Linked DNA regions of Homo sapiens: all the other regions are linked to region 4. Evidence: fine-mapped QTL for protein levels in blood plasma. A gene starts in region 4. Each other region holds a variant in brackets. All regions are shown on one strand. Distances are from middle to middle.

The links. PIP is the posterior inclusion probability: the model's chance that the variant is causal. Protein levels are from antibody-based Olink assays in UK Biobank. Linkage for the fine-mapping came from a reference panel and not from the study's own genotypes, which makes the PIPs less certain.
Region 1: its variant is fine-mapped to the plasma level of the MPO protein (UK Biobank, PIP above 0.99).
Region 2: its variant is fine-mapped to the plasma level of the MPO protein (UK Biobank, PIP above 0.99).
Region 3: its variant is fine-mapped to the plasma level of the MPO protein (UK Biobank, PIP above 0.99).
Region 5: its variant is fine-mapped to the plasma level of the MPO protein (UK Biobank, PIP above 0.99).
Region 6: its variant is fine-mapped to the plasma level of the MPO protein (UK Biobank, PIP above 0.99).
Region 7: its variant is fine-mapped to the plasma level of the MPO protein (UK Biobank, PIP above 0.99).

The regions. Positions count from the first base shown.
Region 1 is chr17:59,616,423-59,620,773 of GRCh38, reverse strand. CLTC (clathrin heavy chain) reads right to left here and starts at 879. Exons shown (of 32, transcript NM_004859.4): 1 at 601-879. The coding sequence starts at 642. RefSeq lists enhancers at 792-1,086, 816-1,165, 1,616-1,735, 1,746-1,795, 1,633-2,445. The variant C/T (reference allele first, on the strand shown) is at 2,195.
Region 2 is chr17:58,268,958-58,273,241 of GRCh38, reverse strand. MPO (myeloperoxidase) reads left to right here. Exons shown (of 12, transcript NM_000250.2): 10 at 324-494; 11 at 1,350-1,587; 12 at 2,379-3,387. The coding sequence ends at 2,586. Among named protein-coding and RNA genes, the nearest start is that of MPO, 9.8 kb to the left of the region's middle. RefSeq lists enhancers at 143-178, 1-381, 1-508, 1-987. The variant A/C (reference allele first, on the strand shown) is at 2,377.
Region 3 is chr17:59,046,587-59,050,937 of GRCh38, reverse strand. It overlaps TRIM37 (tripartite motif containing 37), which reads left to right. Exons shown (of 24, transcript NM_015294.6): 15 at 1,545-1,760; 16 at 3,119-3,255. Among named protein-coding and RNA genes, the nearest start is that of TRIM37, 58 kb to the left of the region's middle. The variant G/C (reference allele first, on the strand shown) is at 2,595.
Region 4 is chr17:58,278,699-58,283,025 of GRCh38, reverse strand. MPO (myeloperoxidase) reads left to right here and starts at 2,091. Exons shown (of 12, transcript NM_000250.2): 1 at 2,091-2,421; 2 at 2,567-2,660; 3 at 3,012-3,187; 4 at 3,380-3,503; 5 at 3,600-3,729; 6 at 3,812-4,018. The coding sequence starts at 2,268. RefSeq lists promoters at 811-1,011, 1,057-1,282, 1,167-1,568, 1,961-2,101, 1,507-2,101 and enhancers at 1,141-1,158, 3,743-4,327.
Region 5 is chr17:58,402,916-58,406,915 of GRCh38, reverse strand. The region is part of intron 2 of RNF43 (ring finger protein 43); the gene reads left to right. Among named protein-coding and RNA genes, the nearest start is that of RNF43, 13 kb to the left of the region's middle. The variant G/A (reference allele first, on the strand shown) is at 3,320.
Region 6 is chr17:59,269,040-59,273,390 of GRCh38, reverse strand. GDPD1 (glycerophosphodiester phosphodiesterase domain containing 1) reads right to left here. Exons shown (of 10, transcript NM_182569.4): 8 at 2,396-2,455; 9 at 555-606. Among named protein-coding and RNA genes, the nearest start is that of GDPD1, 51 kb to the right of the region's middle. The variant C/A (reference allele first, on the strand shown) is at 1,709.
Region 7 is chr17:58,307,928-58,311,363 of GRCh38, reverse strand. It overlaps TSPOAP1 (TSPO associated protein 1), which reads left to right. Exons shown (of 32, transcript NM_004758.4): 19 at 151-528; 20 at 613-852; 21 at 1,206-1,397; 22 at 1,984-2,823; 23 at 3,423-3,436. Among named protein-coding and RNA genes, the nearest start is that of TSPOAP1-AS1, 16 kb to the left of the region's middle. RefSeq lists an enhancer at 1,130-1,829. The variant C/AGAGGAGGAC (reference allele first, on the strand shown) is at 2,118.

The DNA of each region.
Region 1 (4,351 bases), 1.3 Mb before region 4:
CCTTCTGTCCCTACTGCCTCAGGGAAGGCAAGAGAAAAGCCACCGCCTCACCACCACCCCCAACCCCCACCACCGGAGAAGGTGCCTTTCTCAGTTGAGAGCCGCAGAGGGAGGGAAAAAAAAGGTTGCTCCTCCCCAACCCACCCGCCCCACAACTCCTGGGTGCAGACACGATGAGGGAAAGAGGAGAGCAATGGAAGGTGACAGCCCCGCACTGGCCCAGGGGATAAGAATCCTTGCTCTGGTAGAAACAAGGGAGAATCCCCCTCCCACTCCCCTACCCAAATGAATGAAATGAATAAAATGGGGAGAGAGTTTGTACGCGCAGTTCTGGCCATCCAGGAAGCAAGATCGAGAGGCCTTTGGATCCAGGCCTGGTCCTTGCAGCTCTTTGCACCCCAACTCCTGTCCTTTCCATCCAAGCCCCACATCATTTAATATTTTAAGCTTTCCAAGATAGTGCCCCCTCCTCCACCTACCCCAATCACCGACAACCCCCCCGCCCCTCCAGCTCCGATACTGCTCGGGCCCAGACTCCAGCGTCTTCCATCCTTCCTACCACCTTCTCCACAGCCCTCACCAGCCCGGGCCCGGCCGCACCTGGAGATGCTCCTGAAAACGAATTGGCAGAATCTGGGCCATGGCGCTGTCGGGGGTTATGGTCTCCTCCTGTCACTGGGGCTGCGGGGCAGTGGCTGCCCGGGCTCTCCAAGGGAGAGGAGGAGAAGGGGAGGGGGGAGGCTGGGCTCAGCAGGATCCTCTCCGGGGACGCAGGAAACTGGCAGGCAGACGAAAGAGCTCGGGTCGGGGGCGGAGGCTCCAGGGGCCAGGAGAGCCGCAATGGCGGAACCGGGCGCAGCGCAGACTCCGGAAACGGCTGAGCCCAGCGGAAGGATCCCGGCGACAGAACTCCGCCCAGTCGCCTCACCCCCTCCGCCTTATGTACCCCTCCACGGAGCGCCGCGCGCGGCGGGCGCAGGAATTCGGGGCGCAGTGCGCCCGGTGCCTCGCTTCCTGACGCCACATGGGGGGAAACAGAGGAACCGGAGGGACTACTTTTTTAGACTCATCACTTTCGCCAGTCTTCTCTTTCTCCCCCCACTTTTTTTTTTTCATTTTGCCACATCATGCGACTCGGGGCGACCGACGTCACTTCCGTGGGCGCTTTAGGTCCCACCCACGTACTTCCAGGTGCACGTGATACTGATGGGGAAGGGTCGGCTGATTGCTGCCAGAAATGGAGAGCTCGTTTTAAGGAAATGCGGCGTCTCCTGGGAGTGAAGAGGCTTTTGGGCCACCTTGAGGCATGACGGGTGCCGCTTCGTTTCCCTGCGACCGCTGCCTGTTTCGACTGAGCCCCTCACAGGAGGACGTGGCGGGGGCAGACGGGCGCAGCCTCCCGCCCTCTCCGTGACTCAGGGAAACGGCCTCGCCGCAGAGCGCTCCCTCGGCAGCTGGCTGCAGCACTCCTCCCCCGCCGGGCTTCAGAGTGGGTGGTTTCCTACAGCCTAGGGAGGGGGCCTGAAACGGGGTTTAAAATCTTCCCTGCCCTCACACAAGCCCTTCTGACTGTTGGAGAACCTGACGCGCGGATTCTAACTAGAACTGGCACTCTCTTCGGGTGTTAGATAATTAACTCAAAGGACAGCGAAGGCCTTTTATGATGTCTTTCAAGCTGGCCTTATGACAGCTTTTCTTAACGTTTCTGCGGACATTTTGGCGGACTTGTGTCGGCCTAGCTCAGTGATCAGTTTCGTTAAAGAATTTGAGTATCCGAACATTAAAGGATTGGACCTAAATTCTAGCAGGAGGATTTTTAGCCACATCAAATAATTTACGTCTCAAAGATTTAGATAATTAGGGTAAGGATGCTTAGTAAAACCCGAAGGTTCCATCGCGCCACTGCACTCCAACCTGGGCGACAGAGCGAGACTCCGTCTCAAAAAAAAAACAAACAAAAAAAAACCTGAAGGTTCCTGGAGGAAAGAGATGAACTATTAGCCGTGTATTTCGGTGGGACCACCTCAACATAGGTTCCTGTAGGTTAGCAATGTAGAAATGTAGCGCTTCAAAGCCGGAGCATCCTGTCTTCAAAGAGCATGAAGGTATCAACGGCATTCATTGTCGATTAATAATAACCTTTCTGGTACTTTCTTGCTAAAGTATAAGCCATAATAATATTTCATAATCGCAC[C/T]AATACAATAAAGGATGAAAGACGTTAGTTCTGTGCCTTTTATCTTTGTAAGAGAGGTGATTCTCCCCCCCCACCCCCCGCCCCGCCGAAAGAGAAAAGCTCAAGTCCACAATAATTATTTTTAGTGTCCTTTTCAGTTAAAGGACATAAAACCCTATTGGGTAGACGATAGTTTTGTATGCTAAGCAGTTTAGGTTACAGTGAGAAGTTTGCCAATCATTTTAGTTGCTTTTAGTGTTTTTCCCTTTACTTAACTGTCTCACATACTGAGCATGAGAGAAGAGTCTGGCAGGTAAGAGGGCAAAGATTGTTCTGCAAAGAAAAGCCTTGCCACCATGTTGTAAGAGTGAATATTTATGCTTGCAAAATTTCTTTTTGTATTGTTAAGCTAAATACACGAAGATCCTCTGTTCCGCAACATTTGAAATAACCTAATGCCAGTCTAGTAATAACTGCTTTAAACCCTTTTTGGAAGTAGACAAATTCTAAATTAAAATTCTAAGGGAGTAATTGTTTTATTACAGTAATTCAATAGCTTGATCAAGTCACCTTTTCAATCTCAGAATCCGGAGATAAAAGAGCCGTATCATGAATGGGCCACCAAAATTTAATTAGTGTCTGGCATTTTCATACAGACCCTGTAACTTTAAGTACATTTAGAATCCCAAAAGCAGTTGATTTTAGCTATTTGGAGTGGAATATCTAACCAAAAAGTGCGCTGAGGTTGTTAGTGACTGCTACGTCATCACACATAGAAATTACACTGTTTTGAGAAATAATTTAGGAAGAGGAAAAATAGATCGTGATATCCTGGGTCATTTTGAAATGATCTTCAAATTAATCCAAAAATTTTCAAGAGAAAAAAAAAGTCAAGATGATAAACATTAAAAAAAAACCCTATGCCTTTTTAAAGATGAATAATTTGAGTAGGGTAATAAGAGTTTTTTTTTTTTTTTAATGGGAGTCTGCTGTTCTTGGTAACAGTATAAAGGCAGTTTCACTGGTTTCACTGGTTTAGTTACCTAAGCAATACCTGAATGGCACTGTTTTCAGACATTACCTCAAGTTAGAAGGGAGAACAGATAACCTAATAGACCAGGAAGCAAATCCTACTACCCAGAATGGCTTTTTCTACGATACAGTATGACATAGTCTTTTAATAAGACAATGCTATGAATGATCACTCTAGCTTTTGGTTTCAGAAAATGTTTTAGCAAGGTAGCCATGTTAATCAATGGTGAAGTGAAAGCTATTTTAGTTGGAATGCTCATCAACAGTAGACTATCATGAGTCACAGCAAGTGCCATTAGCAAAAACTACATTGCTTGGTCTGTTATTTTGAGGACTGCTAGTTTCTGAAAACCTATACAAGAAACCTGTGTTGTGTCACTAATTTTAATGTTATGCCAACAATTAGGATGGAGATATATACATATATATATATATATATATATATATATATATAAACACTCAATAGAATGACACCTCAAAACACAAACAAAAAACAAAAAAAAAAACAACCCCTTTCACTGTAGGATTTCTCCATTAGCTGTTCATCTTCAAGCAGCCCTAGCACTAATGCCCCTGCCTTTTAAAAACTTGACCTTTTAAAAACAGCCTGAATTCACTGCACTGCAAAAGTCACAAAGAAAAGGCATATCTCACATACTCAGAAATTAATTTTAAAGCAGAACTTTAATCCACTGTACCAAATGTTTACAATTCAGATTCCAATAAAGCCATAAAGGACATACTTTAGTATTATCCAAGTAAGATACTTGGTTTTGCCATTTAAACAGTAGCTTTGAAGCATCTCAACCCCCTGGGGCCACTGATATGAATCCCAGCAGGATTAGACTGGCTAGGTCTTTATTTTTTCATGCAAGATAAGGAGCAGCCTATCAAATGCCAGTAAACAAATGTACAAGTCACTGACTATCGGCAAGGCTCCCCGCTCCAAAATGAAGAAAAGAAAGCAGCATTTACAAAGCAAGAACAATTTTTTTTTTTTGAGACGGAGTCTTGCTCTTGTCGCCCAGGCCAGACTGCAATGGTGTGATCTCGGCCCACCACAACCTCCGCCTCCTGGGTTCAGGCAATTCTCCTGCCTCAGCCTCCCGAGGAGCTGGGATTACAGGCACCAGCCACCATGCCTGG
Region 2 (4,284 bases), 9.8 kb after region 4:
ACAGTGGGGTGGGGATGGCCCTCAGAGGGAACTGGCTACTTCCTATGTGTTGTGGCTCGCTGTGACCCAGGAAGCCAGGGCCTGGGAGCATCCCAATCTTGCAAGTCTGAATGGCATAATCTCCTGAGACCTATATGTCCCTGGGGTCATGTAGTGACCGGTGAGGACCTGCTCACTGGGGCCACCACCTTGGCACCAGGCACTGCTTGTGCCCAGCCCTCTTCTCGAATCCTCCTGACCCTACCTGGACTTGTCCCTGACTCCAATCTGAGCTCTGATACTGAGCCAGATACTTCCCCTGACCTGGCTCCTCTGGTCCCCAGGTGGCATTGACCCCATCCTCCGGGGCCTCATGGCCACCCCTGCCAAGCTGAATCGTCAGAACCAAATTGCAGTGGATGAGATCCGGGAGCGATTGTTTGAGCAGGTCATGAGGATTGGGCTGGACCTGCCTGCTCTGAACATGCAGCGCAGCAGGGACCACGGCCTCCCAGGTGAGGGGCTGCAGGAGTCTCCCCTGATGCTCACCTCCCCTGAGCTGCCTCCTAGGTAGCCCATCACCCCCCTTCCCACTCTAGGGTCCCTGCCCTCTCCAAAGCATATTAGAGGCACTTTGCTCTCAGGAAGTAGCCTGAGGCCAGGCCCCTGCCTTTTCCCGGACCCACCTGATAAATTTCCAGCTCCTCTCAACCTCCTTTGCATGCTGTAATTCTCATATTAGGGGCATCGTCATCATAATGATAACCCACAGTCTGAAAATCTGTCTCTGTCATCATTCCATTTTGCTTCATTGTACGTTAACTCTGGGGGAAGAGATTATTATTGCCTTCATTTTACTGATGAGGAAACTGAGGCTTGATGAGATTCAGAACCTGGCCAGGTTCTCTAGCCAAGTCAGTGGCAAAGCTGAAATTTGAAGCCAGATTAGCCTAACCTCAAAGCCTGTGCCTATGTTATGGGGTAGCCCATGTGGCTGAGGCTTCTAGACACATTTCACCTCTCATGGGTCAGAGACAGACACATCGGGCTGCTCTGGAGGGGGACAAGGAGATGTCCCTATTCTTGGACCCAGCAGGAACTGTGGCAGTTTAGGGTTTGCCTTATGGTAGGAGGGCAAGAGAAAGACAGAGAGGGTCCCAGAGAGGCCCAGTTGTGCCCCTTGGTCTAAGCCAAAGGTACAGGGTTCCTTGAGGTGAGGTCCTTCCCTCCCTCTATGACCTTGGTTGTGTTGGGAAGGTGGGTTTTCTGGGCTGCTGGCGATATGTGAATCTTCCCTGCTGTCTCCAGTGACCTCCCCACCTTGAAGCAGAGAGACCTGCCCATAGCCACCTGTCCCCTCCCCCATGCAGGATACAATGCCTGGAGGCGCTTCTGTGGGCTCCCGCAGCCTGAAACTGTGGGCCAGCTGGGCACGGTGCTGAGGAACCTGAAATTGGCGAGGAAACTGATGGAGCAGTATGGCACGCCCAACAACATCGACATCTGGATGGGCGGCGTGTCCGAGCCTCTGAAGCGCAAAGGCCGCGTGGGCCCACTCCTCGCCTGCATCATCGGTACCCAGTTCAGGAAGCTCCGGGATGGTGATCGGTGAGGAGGGGCAGGCGTCGTGGGCCGCTGGGTGGCTGTGGGCCCATCCTTGACTCTCTTGGAGCCCAAATTTCCTCCTGTCAGTTGAAGGACTGGAGGGAGTCAGTAATTTTCCAGTGTGTTCCAGGAATCCTCCAGATGCCCTGGAGTGCCCCTAATGTGCCCTGAACCTGTTGGGGGTGCAGCAAGGAAAGACCTGGACCCCTGGTTGTAAAGGGTGGAAGATAGAAAAGTGCCACCCTTAGCTACTTCTTCCCATGGGTTTCACTGTGCCACCATGTGGGTGTCAGTCACCAGTGGGCAGTCCCCTCCCAGCTTTCCCACAGCTCCCCTTAGTGTCATTTCCTCGTGGTCCTGATGTCTTCATGTCTAGTTCTTGCTTAGCCTGTACTGCACCTTTGGGAAAATTAGAAAAAGGTGCCCCTCTCTGGGTGGGCGAATTATAAACCACCCCCAAGATTCTCTTCCACTCCTGTGGATGCAGCTCCTGGCCAGGGCACAGGGCTTCAGGAGTGTGTGTGGGCCCGGGTCCCCCTCCAGCATGGTGCCCTGGAGGCCGCCGGGCTAGGGGTAAGGGAAAGGCCACTGGGCAGCTGTGCTTTACTCTGCACGATGAGTGGAGCATCACTTGTGTGAAAGCCCCTGGGCTGCCCAAGGGCCTGGGGCCCTCCTGTGCTTCCAGGTGGCATTTGTTGTGGCTTTGTTATATCCTGGGAGCAGCACAAGCCCATCGATGCCCTGCCAGCCCAGAATATCCTTGGGCACAGTGTCCATGGGTGTTCCCCATGC[A/C]GGTTTTGGTGGGAGAACGAGGGTGTGTTCAGCATGCAGCAGCGACAGGCCCTGGCCCAGATCTCATTGCCCCGGATCATCTGCGACAACACAGGCATCACCACCGTGTCTAAGAACAACATCTTCATGTCCAACTCATATCCCCGGGACTTTGTCAACTGCAGTACACTTCCTGCATTGAACCTGGCTTCCTGGAGGGAAGCCTCCTAGAGGCCAGGTAAGGGGGTGCAGCAGTGAGGGGTATATCTGGGCTGGCCAGTTGGAACCACGGAGATCTCCTTGCCCTAGATGAGCCCAGCCCTGTTCTGGGTGCAGCTGAGAAAATGAGTGACTAGACGTTCATTTGTGTGCTCATGTATGTGCGAAGTATATAAATTGGCTTTTCATGCGTGTGTGTTGTCTGAACATGGGGAGTGTTTCATGGGTTATGTGTATGTGCCATTTATGTGAGTGTGTGTTTGTGCTGATGAGAATACTGAGTATGTGGAAGGCAGCAGAGCGGACTGGTGAGGAGCACAGCTCAGGAACTAGACTGCCTGGGTTCCAATCCTGGCTCTGTGGCTTGCTAGCTATGTGACCTTGAGCAAATTACCCTCCTTAAACAAGAGTTTTCTTCCTTGTAAATTACATCTGTCATGGTTTCTTGGAGGGCCCACTTGTATCCTCTGGTTCTTCATTTATTGAGCACCTACTACATGCAAGGCACTGTACTAGGCGTGAGAAGCATATAGAGGCAAGAAAGAGATACCAAGATGCCATCTGTGTCCTGGTTAGCAGAGCTGGACCAGTGGTGCCTTGGAGGGATAAGCCAGCTGCAGCTGGGCTGTGTGGTTGACTTATGGGCCCAGCCAGCCAGGCTCAGGCCATGGCTCCCCTTTTTCTTCCTCACCCTGATTTCTTGCTTATTCACTGAAGTTCTCCTGAAGAGGAACTGGGCCTGTTGCCCTTTCTGTACCATTTATTTGCTCCCAATGTTTATGATAATAAAGGCACCGCTGATGGGGACCTCCACTCTGTCTGTGTCTGAGGAGGAACTGGCGCTTTTGCAGAGGCTTACTCTGGGCTCTGAGCTTGAACCAGTGTGGTCTGTGCTCAGGGCCCTGTGTTTCTGAACCGAGGGTGAGGATGTTGGGGAGTTTTCCTTTGAGATCCGTACGTGGAGGGCAGCCATCTCTTGGAAGCCTGGGGGCCGGGGCATGCGGTGCAGACCCTCCTCCCTCACCTTCCACCCCTGCCACCCTGCAGGGAACTGTGGTCACCAAGCCCTCATGTTTGTTCATTGCTCTAGCAAACGTTTGCTATGTGTTCACTCTGTGTCAGGCCTGTGCCAGGGGCTAGGAAGTGGAGGGGACAAAATGCTGTGTGGTAGGAGAGAAAGTACAGAGACCTGGTGAGGAGGCAGGCCCTTCCCCAACAAGAGGGGCCTCTGCATCCTGCATCCCAGCAGCCTGGCACAGGGGTTCAGAGGCCCTCAAGACAGTGGACTCCTTCTCATTCATGTTGCACATGGCTCCTGGAGAAGGGAGAGCAGATGGCTGGGCCCAGAGGACAGGGCCAGCACTGAGGGAGGGGAAGGAGTGTATTTCCCTAGTAGTCTTGCCTGGAGCTTGAACCCTGCGTCTGACTGGTGGACTCCCTCCCTCTCCTCTTCCTTCTCAAATATGGGGAGGGGGCTGGAAGTGGTGTAGGACGGTGGGGTCTAATGTACTCATGGGGCCCCTGGTAACGTTAGGACCTCACCATGGTAAGAAGCAGCAAAAATACTGCTTGTCCTCATTTCTGTGATGAGGAGAGGGCTGCTCAGAGGGGTGAAGCGACTCGTCTGAGGCCTTAAAGAAGTGGGTGGCAGTGCCAGGCTGCAGCCGAGGTCATCTGGCTCCTGGGCTCTTCCCACAGGATGACTGGGTG
Region 3 (4,351 bases), 770 kb before region 4:
TGCAATCTCGGCTCACTGCAAGCTCCGCCTCCTGGGTTCACGCCATTCTCCTGCCTCAGCCTCCTGAGTAGCTGGGACTACAGGCGCCTGCCACCACACCGGGCTAATTTTTTTGTATTTTTAGTAGAGACAGGGTTTCACAGTGTTAGCCAGGATGGTCTCGATGTCCTGACCTCGTGATCTGCCCACCTCGGCCTCCCAAAGTGCTGGGATTACAGGCATGAGCCACCACGCCCTGCCACTTTATTTTTATTTTTTTTTATTTTGGAGACAGGTCGGACTCACTCTTGTTGCCAGGCACAATTTCCACTAACTGCAGCTTCAACTTCCCAAGCTCGGGTGATCTTCCCACCTTAGCCTCCCAGGTAGCTGGGACTACGAGCATGTGTCATGGCTAGTTTTTGTTTTTGTGGAGATGGGTTTCTCCATGTTGCCCAAGCTGGTCTTGAACTCCTGGGCTCAAGCAGTCTGCCTGCCTTGGCCTCCCAAAGTGCTGGGATTACAGGTGTGAGCCACTGTGCCTGGTCTGTAAATTTAGCTTAATTAAAATTAAAAATTTAGTTCCTTAGTTGCAGTAGCCACATTTCAAGTGCTTGCATTGGTTACTGCAAATCTAGAGCATTTCCATCATTGCATAAAGTTGTTTTGAACAGTGTGGCTGTAGTTTGAGGTAAGCTGTTTGTGTTTCTGTCAGTGACTTAGTTTCTCTTCCACAAGTTATCTTGGATTTAGAGGATTCTAGGCTATAGCACAATTAAAAGTTGTCCCATCTTGAACTCTTACTATTGTTGAATGAGCACTGGGGAAGATTAATTGATGAATTTTTATTTTACAGTGGTAAACTAAGGAATGTTTCATTTCCCTTAGGAAGTTAGGGTGTGGCAGGAGGTTTGGAGTGCTGAGAGTCGTTAATAGGTCAGGGAGGAAAATGTGAATAAATACATGCTTTCAGAGATTTTCATGTTAAATGTGCTATTTAAAACTGCCTGTATTCACTATACTGTTTGCTAATTGTATGTTTAGCTTAGGCTGGATATGAAAGAAGGAGGATGAGCATAAATGGGGCAGTTTATCTTTGTCATCAATTTTTTTTTATAAATAAAAGGCAGTAGGGATTCAGAGAAATGGTTTAAGAAATGGTGCCAAGTGAGGTGGCTCATTCCTGTAATCCCAGCATGTTGGGAGGCCGAGGCCAGAGGAACATTTGAGCCCAGGGGTTCAAAACCAGCTTGAGCAACATAGCAAGATACCGTCTCTAAAAATAAATAAAAATGAAATTAGCCAAGCATGGTGGCACACACCTCCAGTCCCAGCCACTTGAGAGGCTGAGGCAGTAGGATCGTTTGAGCCCAGTAGTTCAAGGCTTGCAGTGAGCTATGATGGCACCACTGCACTTCAGCCTGGGCAACAGAGTGAGACCATTCTCAAAAAATAAATAAAGCAATGGTTTTAGAAACATCTGGATGCATTTTTTTTTCACTTGAGACATCTTTTACTGTGCCAGTGAGCTGTGGCTAATATTTGTGCTTTTCTTGTTTTAAAAGAGACTTACTATTGAGCTGTCTCGAACTCAGAAGTCAAGAGATTTGTCACCACCAGATAACCATCTTAGCCCCCAAAATGATGATGCTCTGGAGACACGAGCTAAGAAGTCTGCATGCTCTGACATGCTTCTCGAAGGTGGTCCTACTACAGCTTCTGTAAGAGAGGCCAAAGAGGATGAAGAAGATGAGGAGAAGATTCAGAATGAAGATTATCATGTAATAATGAGGCCAGTTTTAGATTTTTGTGTTTGATTAAAAAAAAACAGTAGCATCATGGCTTTTAACATATTATGTGCTAAAACAGTAGGCTAAAAATATTGTCCATTGATTTCCATTAGTAATGTATGTATGCCCTTATGTAAATGTTAATAAGTCAGAAGTTGTTGAATCAAAGCATTTCAAGGTTGTGAAAAAAACAATACATTGTATAAAACAAACCGTGATACACATTTTAAAACCTAAACTACCATACATTGTGGATTTTAAAAATGTGTTCTGGCCGGGTGCGGTGGCTCACACCTGTAATCCCAGCACTTTGGGAGGCCAAGGTGGGTGGATCACATGAGGTCAGGAGTTCGAGACTATCCTGGCCAACATGGCCAAACCCTGTCTCTACGAAAAATACAAAAATTAGCTGGGTGTGGTGGTGCTTGCCTGTAATCCCAGCTACTTGGGAGGCTGAGGTAGGAGAATCACTTGAACCTAGGAGGCGGAGGTTGCAGTGAGCCAAGATTGTGCCACTGCACTCCAGCCTGGGAGACAGAGCAAGACTCTGTCTCAAAGAAAAAGAAAAAAAAAAGGTGTTCTATTTTCATTCACTGAAACTAGTACATGCCTTATCATTACTTACGTAGGTAGACTGATTTAGGATTCGGTAGCTAGCCAGGTTCTATCCCAGCTAAACAACAGTCAGAATCCAGAATAAGAGTTCAAGAAGTAGTTGATATTTTTACATAAGAAGGGATGCATAGACAGTTGGTTTTTTTGTAGTAATTTTTAAGATGAGAGACTTCAGTTTTAAGTTAAAATGAAGGACCCAGTGGGTCGAGA[G/C]AATGCACAGATTAAGTGCTTTGATAAACTAGAGATAATAGGGTTTGGAATGGAGCAGTCAGGTGAAGCAGTTAACCTTTGATAAACTGAGTTAAAGGAAGGGTGGAGTTTGCAGGTAAGGCAGCTGAAAAGTTGGGGAAGTTTTTGCTTAATAGTGGGTATTTTTTTTCTGTGCAGATAGGTGACAGTGTTAATTAATGACCTTGATAATGGTAAAATTAGGTAGAATTGAGGAGTGATGGTTTGAAACGTTACTCTGTGAGGAAGCTGATGTGGAATATGTGAAGGATTCCAGTCACACTGAGGGCCCAGCTGAAGGCGGCACGCATAAGTTAGTAAAATGATATCAGTCAGTGTGGTTGTGTGATTTTTCTCTACAGGGCTCAGCAGCTGAGGCACAGGAGCAGAAAATAGATTTTTGAAAACTGTATTATTCTTTGGTGCTTGGTTTATGGGCTGGATGGGGTGATCAACTGAGTAGAAACATTTGGAATAGACGTCTTGTTTTCTTGGCATTGATCTAGCACGAGCTTTCAGATGGAGATCTGGATCTGGATCTTGTTTATGAGGATGAAGTAAATCAGCTCGATGGCAGCAGTTCCTCTGCTAGTTCCACAGCAACAAGTAATACAGAAGAAAATGATATTGATGAAGAAACTATGTGAGTTTCCCACTTTACTACTGTAAAGCATTTAAGTGGTAATTATTAGAAGCATATTAACTAACTCACACTTAAATGTAGGGATATTCAGCACTTTTTTGAAAGATTGAATCAATAGTCAGTTTTCTCTCTCTAATCTCTGGGCTCTTAGCCAATAATTTTTGTTTGTGTTTTAACTTTTAAATTTGAATTTTGAAATTATTTTATACTTAAGAAAAGTTCAGAATTTCATGTTTCCTTCACACAGATTCATTCCCTATGAATATTTTGCTTTATATTTCTCTGTATATAATTTTTTCTGAAACACTTGAGATCGAATATACTTCTCATTGTGTACTTTTCTAAAAACAAGGATATTCTTACATAACTATAGAATAGTTATCAAAATCTGGAAATTAACATTGATGTAATACTGTAACCTTCTAAAAATTTGCCAGTAATGTCCTTTGTCAGGATCATGTTGCATTTAATTGTTAAATCGATTTAGTTATCTTCAATCTGGGTTACTTTTTTTTTTTTCCTTTTTTTTTGAGACGGAGTCTCGCTCTGTCGCCCAGGCTGGAGTGCAGTGGCATGATCTCAGCTCACTGCAAGCTCCACCTTCCGGATTACGCCATTCTCCTGCCTCAGCCTCCCGAGCAGCTAGAACTACAGGCGCCCGCCACCTCGCCCAGCTAATTTTTTGTATTTTTAGTAGAGACGGGGTTTCACCGTGTTAGCCAGGTTGGTCTTGATCTCCTGACCTCATGATCCGTCCACCTCGGCCTCCCAAAGTGTTGGGATTACAGGCGTGAGCCACCGCACCTGGCCAATCTGGGTTACTTTTTTAAAAATTTGTTTTTCGGCTGGGCACGGTGGCTCACGCCTGTAATCCCAGCACTCTGGGAGGCTGAGGCGGGTGGATCACGAGGTCAGGAGATCCAGACCATCCTGGCTAACACGGTGAAACCCCGTCTCTACTAAAAATACAAAAAAGAAATTAGCCAGGTGTGGTGGCAGGCGCCTGTAGTCCCAGCTACTTGGTAGGCTGAGGCAGGAGAATGGGGTGAACCCGGGAGGCGGAGCTTGCAGTGAGCTAAGATCACGCCACGGCACT
Region 4 (4,327 bases):
TTATGTTTACATATAGGATATCAAATTCTTAAATGAGGTATTGGTGAGTGGTGGGATTATGGGCAATTATTTTCCTTCCTATTGTTTATTTATGTGAAGACAATGATAAACCTTGAAAGAAAAAAGTACCCACAATCTCACTTGATGATGAGTAATTTTGATTTATTTTTATTTTTGCATACTCGTGTTCTCAAACTTTTCATCAGTGAAAATTATATTACTTAAAGGATTGAAAAATCATTTCCAAAAGCCTCTAAAATTCTAGAGCTTGATTCACAAAGAGCCACTCGACCAACTTCACACACAGCAAGTCACTGGCAGGGCAAAAGCTTGGTTCCCCTTCTCAGCAGGGGACAGAATCCCTGGACACACTGGGAAGATATTCTGGGTGTTGCTGTCCCTTGTCCCTTGGCCAAGAGGTGGTCTGGGCATAGAAGACAAGAGTGGGCCGGGCGCGGTGGCTCACGCCTGTAATCCCAACAGTGGGTGGATCAGGAGGAGGTCAGGAGTTTGAGACCAGCCTGGCCAACATGTTGAAACCCCATCTCTACTAAAAATACAAAATATTAGCCGGGCATGGTGGCGGGCGCCTGTAATCCCAGCTACTTGGGAGGCTGAGGCAGGAGAATTGCTTGAACCCAGGAGGCAGAGGTTGCAGTGAGCCGAGATTGCACCACTGTACTCCAGCTCCGCCAACAGTGAGAGACCCTGTCTCAAAAAAAAAAAAAAAAAAAAAGAGTGGGTGGCGGGAAGGTGGCTGAAGGTAGGAGGGGGAACCTAAATGGGACATGGGAGGCATGGTTGGCACGAGCTCAGCCTGACCAGGGCCCAGAGAGGTAGACTGATTCAGTCAAAAGTCGTAGTACTTTTCCTGCTGAGATTGGTGGCCCTTTTGCTGGGCTTTCTCAAGCAAGAAATATCCTCTTCTGTTTCAGAATTATTCTGAATCATTAACCCAAGTCCTCCCAACTGCACTGATCCTGTCCCAGAGAGGCCCTGGGCTGCATCACCTAACTGATCACTAACCACAACCAGTTCTGCTCTCTCCTGGTTCCTGAAATCCAGGAGCAGATGGTGGTGGGGAGGAGGAGTTTGGAGACAGCCCTCTACCAGAAGCCAAGAAGAAAGGGGAGTGAGGAGGGATAGAGGAAGTTATCTTGGTCCTGCGCCCACAGTCCCCAGGGTCCTCCTTCCTGTGAAGCCCAACGGTCTCCAGCCAGATTTCCTGTCCCCTTAGCCCCACCAAGAACCAGAGGCTGCCCATTGGGTGGCTGTTGGATGCAGGTTACTGTTGGAGTGGGGGATGGCCACCTGAGGCCAATTGGGTCATCTTTACTCCAGGTCTCCCTTTCATCCTCCTGTCTTCCCTGGGGGCACTCTATTCCCTGCAATTCCTTGGGCTACCAGTTCCTGACTTTTGTTCCTTTCAAAGGAACCCTGGATAACCAGTGTAACCAGAATTTCAGAGGGGTTAGTTGTGTGTATCCCCTGGGGACAAGCACTGGTATAGGCACACAATGGTGAGCTGAGAAATCTTGGGCTGGTAGTGCTAAATTCAAAGGCTGGGGACAGGCTGGGGCCAGTGGCTCATGCCTGTAATCCCAGCACTTTGGGAGGCTGAGGCGGGTGGATCACTTGAGGTCAGGAGTTCAAGACCAGCCTGGCCAACATGGTGAAACCCTGTATCTACTAAAAATACAAAAATTAGCTTCTTGCCTAAGGAAAAATACAAAAATTACTTCTTGCCTAAGGAAATAATTGATGATGTGGCTAGAGGCTAGGGCGTGGTGGCGGGCACCTGTAATCCCAGCTACTCGGGAGGCTGAGGCAGAAGAATCGCTTGAACCATTGCACATCAGCCTGGGCAACAGAGCAAGATAACGTCTCAAAAAAAAAAAAAAAAAAGGCTGGGGACAATGCTGGCCCCTCCTTTCCTGCCCCTTCCCCCCATTTCAGGGGCCCCTCTGTGTGTACCTTCCAACCCCAGTGGGGGAGGAGAAAGAGTTCAGTCTCCAGGATCAGACCTTCCTCTACCTCACCCCACCCCCAGCTTAGAGGACATAAAAGCGCAGATTGAGCTAAGAGGAGCTGACAATATCAGGTGAGCTGTGGAGGTGGGGTCCTTGGAAGCTGGATGACAGCAGCTGGCAAGGGGATAAGAGAGCAGTGAGCCCCTCCCTCAAGGAGGTCTGGCTTTATCCATAGACAGGGCCCTCTGAGGTGGGGCTGAGGTACAAAGGGGGATTGAGCAGCCCAGGAGAAGAGAGATGGGGGTTCCCTTCTTCTCTTCTCTCAGATGCATGGTGGACTTAGGACCTTGCTGGGCTGGGGGTCTCACTGCAGAGATGAAGCTGCTTCTGGCCCTAGCAGGGCTCCTGGCCATTCTGGCCACGCCCCAGCCCTCTGAAGGTGCTGCTCCAGGTAACAGTTCCCAAGGTGGGAGAAGATGGTGTGTTGGGGTGGTTGTGTTCCAGAGACCCCTTTTCTCAGAGCAGGCCTTCCTAGCTCTGGGGCCTGATAGGGGGTTGGGGCCCATTCCTGACTTTGTGATCCCTGCTCTGGGCAGCTGTCCTGGGGGAGGTGGACACCTCGTTGGTGCTGAGCTCCATGGAGGAGGCCAAGCAGCTGGTGGACAAGGCCTACAAGGAGCGGCGGGAAAGGTGGGGCACGAGGCACTGCCCAGCTCTGGGCAAGGATGTCCCAGGCCTTTCAGAGAAGCAGCAGGCAGCAGGGAGCTTGAAGGTGGGAGAGGGGGACTATGGGGACCCATGTGGACTCCCTTTCTGTCTGTCTGTCCCTGTGTTTCTGGATGGGAGAACAGCTTAAAAGCCATCCTTCCCAAAGCCTTGCCTCTGTCTGGACACCCAGGTCCATATCCTTTTTATAAAAGGAAGCCTTCCTCCCACCCGTGGGCCTGCCTGCATGGTCCTGCATGTCTGCCCCTGGGCTGGGGCTCTGCTGGGTGGGTCTGTATCCCTTCTCTGGCCCTCACTCCTCCTTTCTCCAAGCAGCATCAAGCAGCGGCTTCGCAGCGGCTCAGCCAGCCCCATGGAACTCCTATCCTACTTCAAGCAGCCGGTGGCAGCCACCAGGACGGCGGTGAGGGCCGCTGACTACCTGCACGTGGCTCTAGACCTGCTGGAGAGGAAGCTGCGGTCCCTGTGGCGAAGGCCATTCAATGTCACTGGTACTGTTGCCCATCACACCCCAGGTCCCTGCTCCACTAGTGACTCCTCCTAGGGACCCCAGCCGTCTCTCAGTGATCCCCTCAACTTCTTCCTCCAGGGAGTCTCAGGAGTCTCCAGGGCTCCTCAGCCTCAGGTTGCCTGGGATAGGAAGTGAGGCGGCTCAGCTCCCCCATTGTTCTTTCCCCCGGCAGATGTGCTGACGCCCGCCCAGCTGAATGTGTTGTCCAAGTCAAGCGGCTGCGCCTACCAGGACGTGGGGGTGACTTGCCCGGAGCAGGACAAATACCGCACCATCACCGGGATGTGCAACAACAGGTGCGGCTGGCTGGGGGTGGCTGCAGGAACCGGGCTCAGAGAGGCGTCCCGGACGCCACAAGCCTCCCGGTGTCAGCGCCCTGTCCTCCCCTGCAGACGCAGCCCCACGCTGGGGGCCTCCAACCGTGCCTTTGTGCGCTGGCTGCCGGCGGAGTATGAGGACGGCTTCTCTCTTCCCTACGGCTGGACGCCCGGGGTCAAGCGCAACGGCTTCCCGGTGGCTCTGGTGAGCGCCGGCGGGCAGAGGGGGCGAGGCCCGGCCACGCGGTGCGCGGACCCAGGCGCCAGCTGATCTCCGTGTCCCGCAGGCTCGCGCGGTCTCCAACGAGATCGTGCGCTTCCCCACTGATCAGCTGACTCCGGACCAGGAGCGCTCACTCATGTTCATGCAATGGGGCCAGCTGTTGGACCACGACCTCGACTTCACCCCTGAGCCGGCCGCCCGGGCCTCCTTCGTCACTGGCGTCAACTGCGAGACCAGCTGCGTTCAGCAGCCGCCCTGCTTCCCGCTCAAGGTGGCCCTGCTTCCCGCCCACTGCCTGGGTTGGGAGAGGGGAGATTGTTTCTGGAAGGGGCCATCTCCCTTCTGTGCCCAGGTTTCCTTTCCCAGACGCTGAGGAAGGCTGGCCCTGCCTCCCTTGTGTCCACAGCACTGGCTGCTCAGCTATGACCTGTCTCCTTCCTGCGCCTGGGCTCAGCCAGCTGGCAGCCAGGGCCGTCCATTTGCTCACTGCCTCTGGCAGGCCAAGGGAGAGAGGGTTGTTCCTCCTTGGCTGACAGGAGTCCTGTTGGTGGAATCACTGGCTCTTTGTTAGGTTGGGAGA
Region 5 (4,000 bases), 120 kb before region 4:
CACTTTTGTGCGTGCTAGTATATCAAAAAGGTATTGTTATACATATATAAATATATGACATTTGAGAAACACTGTTGGTATTTTACTTCTGTAGAATAATTCAGATGAGACTAAAGGCCTTATAAGTCTACTTATTTTGCTATTTTAAAAAAAAAAAAAAGTATAGATTTCCATTCGTTTTTTCCCCCAAACCATTTTCTACAGTCTTTTGTATTATCTACTTTAAAACAACAAAAAACATCTTTTATATGATCTAGGCTTTGTGTTCCCTCATTTTAATATCTTCTACCTGGAATTATATTGATGATCTGACTTTAAAATTCTTGTGGTCAAGTTTCTTTAACTTCTGAAGGACTGTATTGGCTCTATATTGGAATTAAGTCCTATTCAGTTTTCCATTCTTAGAGTAAAATACAGTTTTGATGGAGGGGAGGGAAAAGTGGCAGAATATTCCATTTGTGAAATATAATCATCAAATTTCAAGCTAGAAAAAACAATCAGTCCAGTCTTCTCATTTTATATATGAAGAATTGAACTCAGATTAGTGCTTATCAAAGAATTCCAATCTGCTGCTATATCTTACTGGCCAATATTTTTAGCATAGTTTATTTATTTATTATAAACCTTTTGGGGTCACTGCAGGGAAATTAAAAAGCACATGTCAGCAGAGATTTCCCCCTGAACATTCCATTAAGAAGATATAGACTGCCGCAGGGTCTCTTTCCTCTTTGATCCCTAGTCAACTACAGGCATACTTTAAAATAAGTGAACAGACCAAAAATACCTCACCACAGTTTAGCAATACTTTACGTGGTGCATGTGTCATTTATTCTGCCACAGAATCACTGCACATCAGGTGGTCTGTAGTCCTGGATCTTCTCAGAGCAATATCACCTCTTTATAAAGTCTAGGCTAAGAATCTTACCAAGACTAGAAGGGGCACTGGATTCTCTAGATGCCTTATAATGTGGTTTTCCTATTTGTACCAAATTCTGTGACAGATACTATAGTAATTCAAAGAGCAACACAACACCTTAGCCTTGTCCAACTGAGGAGAATCAACTTAAACAGCAGGAGGCATTATGTATTGAATGCCAGATGTAGGTGTAGGCATAAATGCATTAGAGTGCTGATTTATTTATTTTCTCTTTTTCTTTCTTTCTTTCTTTCTTTCTTTCTTTCTTTCTTTCTTTCTTTCTTTCTTTCTTTCTTTCTGTCATTAGAGACAGGGTCTCTCTCTCTGTCACCTCTCTCTGTCACCCAGGCTGGAGTGCAGTGGCACCATCAGAGCTTACTATAACCTTGAACTCCTGGGCTCAAGCCATCCTCCCACTTCTGCCTCCCAAAGCTCTGGGATTACAGGCATGAGCTACCATTCCTGGCCTAAAGTGCTGATTTTCATTTTTTCAAGAGTCATTCAAATGACTGTGGTAATTCTGTCTCAGATTCCCTATGATTAAAGAAAAAACAAATGAAAAAATATTAAATTTTAACCCAGGCAACTTCAAGTAGCTTAAAGTTAGAGAAAGAAGTACTACAGTCCGGGTGCGGTGGCTCACGCCTGTAATCCCAGCACTTTGGGAGGCCGAGGCAGGTGGATCACGAGGTCAGGAGATCGAGACCATCCTGGCTAACATGGTGAAACCCCGTCTCTACTAAAAATACAAAAAATTAACTGGGCATGGCGGCATGCACCTGTAGTCCCAGCTACTCGGGAGGCTGAGGCAGGAGAATGGCATGAACCCGGGAGGTGGAGCTTGCAGTGAGCCGAGATGGTGCCACTGCACTCCAGCCTGGGCGACAGAGCAAGACTCTGTCTCAAAAAAAAAAAAAAAAAAAAAAAAAAAGAAGTACTACAACCCAGTCATACCTTCTAAATTTTTACTGTTATCAGTTAATTACAGGTTGTTATATTCCTGTGTGTTTAATACTCATCTTTAGCATTTTCTTTAGGAGTCTAGAATGACTAGATACCATGGCTTTTTTTTTTCAGATTGTAAACTGACTTTCTAAAATGTACCAATCAGTCCCTGTTAAATTTTAGTTAAAACAGTAAATTTAGCTTTAAACAGAATTCAACATATTGGAAGTTTTGTTTGAATTTATCTCAACTAGCTTGATTTTAATTCTTCGCAAACTGCATTCCATAAGGGAAGAAATAAATACTAAGACCTTTTATGTAGAAGGTGAAGAGTATTTGAATATCATATCTATTTAGCAAAAATTGTTTCTAGTACCATTTTCTTATTATTGACTTTAGTCATAAATGTGTGTTATTCCTGTTCCCTAAAATGTGTTGATTTTAGTATGATATGAGGCATATAGAGAACCATTTAAGAAGAATGTACCGATCCACTGTGACATTAGGTTATTTTACTCTAAAGTTAGTAAACTCTATGACATACATTAAACATTTAAAAATTATCATTGGTGAGTATTTGGGATTACTGAGTTGCCCCCTTGGGGTATATGAAAAGTCCCTAGGCACCTTATGATCATTTTAAGTAAAAGCAAGTCACTTAATCTTTCATCTGTTGGTGTAGAGTTGGGGGAGAACTAAATAATCTTTAAGATCCTTTCCAGCTCTAAACTTTTAGAGTTTATGCTTATTCTAGAAATAGATTTCATATATTAAAGGGACATGTATCTTGCCTATTTAGTTCTTTTTCTTTGTCCTTAGTTGTTGGACATCAAAGACAAAATTTGTTTGGTAGGTGATAGAAAAAAATCTGACTAAATTAATGTCTTACAATAAATAGGTAGCAGAACTAAGCATGAGACTCAGTTGTACTCCCAGTCTTCTGGTCCTGTACTGTCTTTGCATTCCAGTTAACACACTCAAAAAAGGAGCCTTTCTCTGGAGTTTCATATTTTAAAATATCTGTAGTAGATTGAGGACCCTTATTGTAAATGCTTCGTCAAGGTTGTCCCAATGATCAGAGCACACTGACTTCAATCACTAACCTGCACCTAAGTGAATCTAACCTTTGGAAAAACCTGAAAGAGCCAGAGACAACCTAGAACCAGTCTGGATGAAAGTAAAAGGAGTAGGATGCTTCTGATCCTAAGTACTCTGTGAAGTGAATTATTAGAGATAAGCTGAATACTTATACTAAAAATAAGATTTCAGAGCAGCTGGTGGGTGTTCACCCATGGGGTGAGGGGGATAGAGCTCTAGTATGTAAGCATCTGGAGGCAACTGGGAAGAGTGGAAATGGGGCCATCTGATTAGTAACTATGCCTTGTTATTAAACCGTGACTTTCTGCATTGTGTATTCCCAGAGTTGGAAAACTTCCGCTGGCAAAAAAAAAGAGAAGG[G/A]CCGCCGTGCTGTTGCTGAGGGCCATACAGTAGACACAAAAGCGCCTTCTTAGAGGCCTTCAGCAGAGGCAACTTGTACAGGCAGGCCTGTTCCTCTCAAAGACTGGGAATCAGATTCTTTCCCCAGGGGGTTTCCAACTAGTTTGCACTTCAGAAAAACCTTTTCTTTCTCCTGCTGTTCACGCCCTGCAAAGAATTTTCTTCCAACCAAAGAAATTGTTTTATAATCAAAGATCCTTGTCCTTAGTTGTTGGACATCAAAGAAAGTTTGGAGGAGACTGGGGGATTATGTGAGTGCCTAGAATTTATTTTGAATGCAAACTTGCAACATTAGCAAGTCCCCCAAAGAATATACTCATCTCAGAGCTGGGAGAGAGCCTAATATAACTAAGTCTCTATTCTTCCTTGGTTGGATGTGCCTCAGTAAGATACAAATGAGTTGAATTGCCTTATCTGGACTTAATTCATGTATGTTTGGTTCTTGAGGTACACGCTTACTGGAAGAGGTCCCCCAACCCATCTTCCCTTTTAAAACTGGTGTTTGGAAACATCAAACACTACTAATAAACTCGAAACAACAACCTACCCCCCCACCCCAAAAAAACTCCTTTTTTAAACCAATGTTTGACTCTTGGGAGTTTGGGGTTTCTCCCAGGACAGTTGATATCACCAAATGTTGGG
Region 6 (4,351 bases), 990 kb before region 4:
TTTGGGAGGCCAAGGCAGGCAGATCACCTGAGGTCCGGAGTTCGAGATCAGCCTGGCCAACATGGCAAAACCCAGTCTCTACTAAAAATACAAAAATTAGCCAGGTATGGTGGTGCATGCCTATAATCCCAGCTACTTAGGAGGCTGAGGCATGAGAATTGCTTGAACCTGGGAGGTGGAGGTTGCAGTGAGTCAAGACTGCACCACTGCACTCCAGCCTGGGTGACAGAGTGAGACTCCATCTCAAAAAAAAAAAAGAAAAAAGTAAAAAAAGAAATATACATACATATATTTATATATATATACACACACACAAACACTGTCCCACCCCTCTGGCATCAGCTATTCTGTACATAAGAGGAATCTAGATCCAGAAATGCCAATGCTTTATTGCTAAGTGTAAGGAAGAGCTTAAGGTCCTCATTTGTGGATCAGTAAAGCAGCAGCATCAGAGTCAAGGGCCAAACTAAGTCAGTTAAAAGTTCTTGCCCTTTATATTTGTGTTAAACTGGTGAGCTATGCTGCTTCCAAAATGCATCATTCCAGAAACTTACTTGAATGCCTCGAGCAGTTAGGTGGTCAAACAAAGCTTTCCTCATTAGTAAGCTAGAAAAGAAAAAGCAAAACTGATTTAGGAATTTAGTCCTTAGTCCTAATTTAGTCAATTTAGAGTTTAGTAATTCCAGTTTAATTTAATCCCAATGCTTCAGCAATAAAAGAAATGGTCTCAAGTAATAATAGCTGTTGTGAATTAATTTATGTCTTAATTGCTGGATCTCCTTTCACTGCAGGCTGCTGGTTGGTGGACAACCAGAACCTCCTTTCTACTTCTTGCTGCTACCAGATTCATAGGAGACCCATTCTTGTTGGCACAGCTCAATGGAAAAGAGGCTGCCTCATTTTCACTGCTGAAGAAGGAGAAAGAGCTGGCTTTCCTTTCTTACTATTAATGTGTGTTCCTAACTTTCCAAGTTAAAATAAGTCAACAAATGCAGGTCAATTTCTATAACATCATAGTTCATTACACAATGGATTAGTCTTTTGTAAGCGATGTTAGAAGCATTATGTCCATTAATTACACTATCCTATGTCTAGGGAAAAAATATTTTTTTGTTCCAAGTAACTCACTGATAAGTGAACTTTCAAAATACAAACCTCTTGAGCAAGATAGGAATTCATTGCACTGGAAAGACATTATTTCTATTCTGTTATGTCTATTAGAATGATTAAATAACAGAAACTAGAAATCATGTGCTTTTAACACCAATTAACAATGCATCTTGTCAGTTAATAGGGTTGAAAAAAGAAAAAAAATGCATCCTGGTTTTACTTGAGTACAAAAAAAAGGCATCCTTGAAAACTAGAGCTTAAATCAAGAATAAAGCAAAAAAGAATAAACACTGACAGAGAGAAAAGATAAAACTAATTGTTTAAGACTCTTTGAAAAAGGCGTTAAGGCTGGGCGCGGTGGCTCACACCTGTAATCCCAGCACTTTGGGAGGCTGAGGTGGGCAGATCACATGAGGCCAGGAGTTCGAGATCAGCCTGGCCAACATGATGAAACCTCATCTCTACTAAAAAATACAAAAACTAACCAGGCATGGTGGGAGGCACCTATAGTTCCAGCTACTCGGGAGGCTGAGGCAGAAGAATCACTTGAACCCAGGAAGCGGTGAGCCGAGATCACACCACTGCACTCCAGCCTGGG[C/A]GACAGAGAAAGACTCCATCTCAAAAAATGAATAAATAAATAAATAAAATAAAATAAAATAAAATAAAATAAAATAAGAAGAAAAGGCGTTAAATAATAAAAAGTTGTGATTTGGGACTATTAAAATATTTAAGCATTCAAGGTTCCATCTTAAAGCAAAATATAGTACAATTATTTAGTGATTTTTACTAAAATTAAACTCATCATGTCTAAATTAAGGCATTTACTTTAAAGTTGATATCCACTCTATAGGTGGGATTTCCTTTCTGCTGTTAAGTCTTGGTGCAGAGCAAATTTTTCTGAGAAATGTGCTGTAGGCAACATACACTTTTATATATACTGTGTTGCTACACTTCTTTTCACCAGCAAGTAAGCTAAAGGGAATGGTTATTTAACCTAGTTCTGCTACTAACTAGCTAGATAACCCCAAGTAAATAATTTAACTGGGTATATGGGGGCTCAGTTTTCTCATGAAGTTGGAGGACATTATCTCTCAAGATTCTTCCTAAGATTTTGTGATTAGTAATTAAGATATTTCTAAATGATTCATACACATTTTACATAGCAGGTGCTCAATTTGTCCTTGTTACAAATTACATGTGGAAAGCTTGCACAACATTTTAAGGGTAGTATTTAATAAATATAGCTGAAGCAATAACTTGCATATTAAGAAATTAAAATTCTTACAGATCAGAAAGCCAGATGAGAAACTTTTGACTTCTGGACATGGTGTGTGGTTCTTTTAGCCTAGGGTAAAATAAAGTTTGAATTACAAATTAGAAACACAGAAATATATCAGTGTGATAAAATGAAACAAATTCAAAAATGAAAACAGTGCCTTGTACTTTGTATATTCTCAAAAAATATTTGTAAAAAGGACAAAAATAAAATAAAGGCCAGTTGGGTTCTGTTTGCACTGGTCTCAAGCTAACTTTTTGCCATCCCTATTCAAAAGTAATAAATAAATAAATAAATAAATAAATGCATACATAAATAAATAAATATTGTCTTTCCAGAGACCCTGGTGCCCTAGGCTCATATCTCGTTTCTTTTTTGGTGAAATCTTTCTCCTGCTTTGTCTCCTACAATTTAGTATGTGGCAAATTTAAACATACAACGGAACTGTATTATAGATCAAAGTGAGCAGTTTACCACGTGTTTTCCTTTCCTTTAAAATATCTGTAGGCCAGGCATGGTGGCTCATGTCTGTAATCCCAGCACTTTGGGAGGCTGAGGCTGGTGCATCACCTGAGTTCAGAAGTTCCAGACCAGCCTGGCCAACATAGTGAAACCCCCCCCCGTCTCTACTAAAAACATAAAAATTAGCCGGGCATGGTGGCGCACACCTGTAATCACAGCTACTCAGGAGCCGGAGACAGGAGAACTGCTTGAACCCAGGAGGCAGAGGTTGCAGTGAGCCAAGACTGCGCCACTGCACTCCAGCCTGGGTGACAAAGTAAAACTCTGTCTCAAAAAAAAAAAAAAGTACAAAATAAAGTACAAGTCCTTTTTTCCCTAACTCTGGCCCCAGTGGAAAGTCCTGGTTGCAATTTCAGGAATATTAGGGATTTAGTAGCTCAAATACTGATTACCTCATTAAACAATCACTATATTGTCTTAGAAAATATCCATTGTCTTCTATAGAAGTATTAAAACACACAAAATATATCCTGCTTGTGTCTTAATCCATAATCACTTTTTAGAGAAAATATTAATTCTGTGGAGTTTGTTCTTATGTCTGTATTTCAACAATATTTGCTTCTAAAAGGAACATATGAAGATAAATATAGAGCAAACAGTCCACTCCAGGCCAGAGGAAAGCTAAGTACTTTAGGAATAAATGTTTTATTTATTTATTTATTGGCAGAGTCTTGCTCTGTCACCCAGGCTGGAGTGCAATGGCGCTATCTCGGCTCACTGCAACCCCCACCTTCTGGGTTCAAGCGATTCTCCTGCCTCAGCCTCCTGAGTAGCTGGGATTACAGATGTGCGCCACCATGCCCAGCTAATTTTGTATTTTTAGTAGAGATGGGAGTTTCACCATGTTGGCCAGGCTGGTATGGAACTCCCGACCTCAGGTGATCCGCCTGCCTCTGCCTCCCAAAGTGCTGAGATTACAGGCAGGAGCCCCTGGCCCAGCCAGGAATAAATGTTTAGGGATCATTTTAATCTAGCAAATAAAATAGGGTGTTTTTTGGGGGGGGGGGTAGACAAGAAGCGTTTTCTATTGTTTTGTCTGAGAAACAGCTACAAAGATGTTCATAAATATAATTTAGGAATAAATAAAATAAACATGTTTATCACTAAGATACTGAAATTGGAAAACAGGCATGAAATAGAAGTTGAGCACAAGAGTACTGACTAAATTGTTTTTCTTTTCTTTTCTTTTTTGAGACAGAGTCTTGCTCTGTCGCCCAGGCTAGAGTGCAGCCATCTCGACTCACTGCAACCTCCACCTCTGGGGTTCAAGCGACTCTCTTGCCTCAGCCTCCCGAGTAACTGAGATTACAGGTGTCTGCCACTGTGCCCGGCTAATTTTTGTATTTTTAGTAGAGACGGGGTTTCACCATGTTGGCTAGGCTGGTGTTGAACTCCTGACTTTGTGATCCACCCGCCTCAGCCTCCCACAGTGCTGGGATTACA
Region 7 (3,436 bases), 29 kb before region 4:
AATGAGATAGGCCATGCAGAGGGCTTAGCACAGTACCTGGCGTAATGCTAGCTGCCACTGCTGTCAGTTAGCTGCCACTGCTGTCAGTGCATCCTCACGCTTGGCTGTCTCAGCCTCTGCTTCCCATCCTGTGCCCCCTCCACCCTGCAGATCATGGAGGTGGCCTCACCCACGGCAGGCAGTGTACTGGTGGAGTTGTCCCAGCTGCAGCTGCTGCAGGTGTGTCGTGAGGTGGTCGTGCGCACCATGTCGCCCCACGGGGAGTCGGCGGACTCCATCCCGGCTCCTATCACTCCCGCCCTGGCTCCGGCCAGCCTGCCAGCCCGAGTCTCCTGCCCCTCACCGCACCCAAGCCCAGAGGCCAGAGCGCCCCTTGCTTCAGCCTCCCCAGGGCCTGGAGACCCCAGCTCTCCTCTCCAGCACCCTGCTCCCCTTGGAACTCAAGAGCCTCCAGGAGCACCCCCTGCAAGCCCTTCCAGAGAGATGGCAAAAGGGTCCCACGAGGACCCTCCAGCACCTTGCTCCCAGGTACCCTGTCTGGGGAGAGGGGAGCAGGTGCAGGCTGGCAGAGGGACCTGGGCTTGGGTCCTTCCTCAGTGCTCTCTGTTCCAGGAGGAGGCTGGGGCAGCAGTGCTGGGCACCTCAGAGGAGAGGACAGCCAGCACATCTACCCTGGGTGAGAAGGACCCTGGCCCCGCAGCTCCCTCACTGGCCAAGCAGGAGGCCGAGTGGACTGCAGGAGAGGCCTGTCCGGCCTCCAGCTCCACCCAGGGAGCACGGGCCCAGCAGGCGCCAAATACCGAGATGTGCCAAGGAGGAGACCCAGGGTCTGGGCTGAGGCCCAGGGCTGAGGTAGGGGTTTGGGGACACACTGTGTCACTTCAGAGAATTGAGGCCTGTCTCCCTACCTTTTGCCAGCGCAAATCCAGTTGCCCTCTCTGCCTGTCCTCTGCTCTGGTCCTGCTCTCACACCTTTGGCTGTGCTATGTGTCTGTTTTTCTTCTAGGATTTCTCTGTCCCATGTGGCTCCCATCTCCCTTCTCCCACCCTGCCCCTGAGCCATGGTGTGCCTCCCCCATTTAGGACATGGCTCTTTCTCCCTCTGCCAAAGGACCCTTGTTACTGTGGCTGGGGCTGACCCTGCCTGGAACCCCCTGTGCCCCCTCACTGTCCTTATCTCTCCTGCCTTGCCTCACTTCTTGCAGAAGGAGGACACAGCAGAGCTTGGGGTTCATCTGGTGAACTCCCTCGTGGACCACGGCCGCAACTCAGACCTGTCAGACATCCAGGAGGAAGAGGAAGAGGAGGAGGAGGAGGAGGAAGAGGAGCTGGGTTCCAGGACTTGCTCCTTCCAGAAGCAGGTTGCTGGCAACAGCATCAGGGAGAATGGGGCCAAGGTAACGGGGTAGGGATGGGCTGTTGGGCCCCAGGCCTCAAACTCCGGGGCCTCCCCACTGTGTGTCAGCAGGTGCTCTGACCACCACTGAGTGCCAGAAACATTCTAGGTCTGTGGCCTGGGCCCTGTCCTAAGCAGAAGATAGGAAGTGCCCCAGGATTGGCCCCTGCCCTCCTGGAAAGAAAGGGGAAGGGGAGGAGTTCATTTCTGTACCTTCTCTCCCTCCAGCCCACCAGATACAGCGCCCTGGCCAGGGGAGGCCGGTGCCACCTAAGATCCTTGTGCTGGTAGCTTCTGGGGAGGGGATGGGGAGGCCTGCTCCTCAATGCTCCTGTCCCACAGGGGCTGGTGATGGTTCCTAGAGTGTGTTCCCTAATTCTTCCTTTGGCTCTCACTGGATATGTGTGTGAATTTGGGCCAGCCACCGTCCCTCTGGTTCTCTCCTCTCGGAGGAAGCCGTGGGAGGGCTGTGGGGTTGTCCGTAACCCCTGCCTTCGTTTGAGGGCAAAGATCGCAGCTCGCTCTCCTCTTCCCCACGCATCTCTCTTCCCTGCTGTGTTCTACTCCCACCTCCCCACCTCCACCAGTCCCAGCCCGACCCCTTTTGTGAGACTGACAGCGATGAGGAGATCTTGGAGCAGATCCTGGAGCTGCCCCTCCAGCAGTTCTGTAGCAAGAAGCTCTTTAGCATCCCGGAGGAGGAGGAAGAGGAAGAGGAGGA[C/AGAGGAGGAC]GAGGAGGAGGAGAAGTCAGGGGCAGGCTGTTCTTCCCGAGACCCTGGCCCGCCTGAACCTGCATTGCTGGGGCTGGGCTGTGACAGTGGTCAGCCCCGAAGACCTGGCCAGTGTCCCTTGTCTCCTGAGTCCTCCAGGGCTGGAGACTGCCTGGAAGACATGCCTGGATTAGTTGGTGGAAGCAGCCGGAGGAGAGGAGGGGGCTCCCCTGAGAAGCCCCCAAGCCGCAGGCGGCCTCCAGATCCCCGAGAACACTGCAGCCGACTTCTCAGCAACAATGGGCCCCAGGCCTCTGGACGACTGGGCCCCACACGGGAGAGGGGTGGCCTCCCCGTAATTGAGGGCCCCAGGACTGGACTAGAGGCTAGCGGGAGAGGCCGGCTGGGCCCTTCCCGGAGGTGCTCCCGTGGCCGGGCGCTGGAGCCTGGCCTGGCCAGCTGCCTTTCCCCCAAGTGCTTGGAAATCAGCATTGAATATGATTCGGAGGATGAGCAGGAGGCGGGCAGCGGGGGCATCAGCATCACCAGCTCCTGCTACCCTGGAGATGGGGAGGCCTGGGGCACAGCAACTGTAGGAAGGCCCAGGGGGCCTCCGAAGGCCAATTCAGGCCCCAAGCCCTACCCACGCCTCCCAGCCTGGGAGAAAGGGGAACCAGAGCGGAGAGGCCGCAGTGCGACGGGCAGAGCCAAGGAGCCACTCTCCCGGGTCCGTGCTCACTCCCCGCCCTGGGCAGCCCCTGCCTGCTGCCACCTGGTGGCCCTGCTTGCTGCCCACCAGCAGCTCCCATTCCACGCTGCCTGCCTCCATCAGCAGAGGTGGGGCCGGGCCTCCGGGCTCCCTCACCTGCCTCCTCCCACCCACATTCCACTGCTTTGCTGCTTCTGCTGATCAGGACTGGGATGCACAATATTCTATCACTAGTCGCCTGTTGCGGCCTGTGGGCAGGGTCGCCCTTTCCTCTGCATAGCTAGTAATGGCTTCAGGACGCTGACTGTGATGCCATGTCCAGGGTTACCTGCCCTGATGCTGACGGGAGGCCCTCCTCTCGCGGGCTCCTCAGCCAACTCCAGTCCCCTCTACTCCATTCATCTACTCGCAGGCTGGGGCTGGGGCCTCCCCTCCTGCCCTCCCTCCCACTGTGGGGGTGTCTGAGGTCTCCAGCAGGCTGGGCCGAGGCTCCGGGAGAGGAATGCTGTGCTCCTGCGCTGCTGTGCTGCTTACGCTGATGGGGCAGAGCTGGGGGAGCACGAGCCCACCAGAGGGATGGTGTGTTACTTTTGCCATCTGTTGCCCTCTTTTTGCAGGCAACAGAGACCGG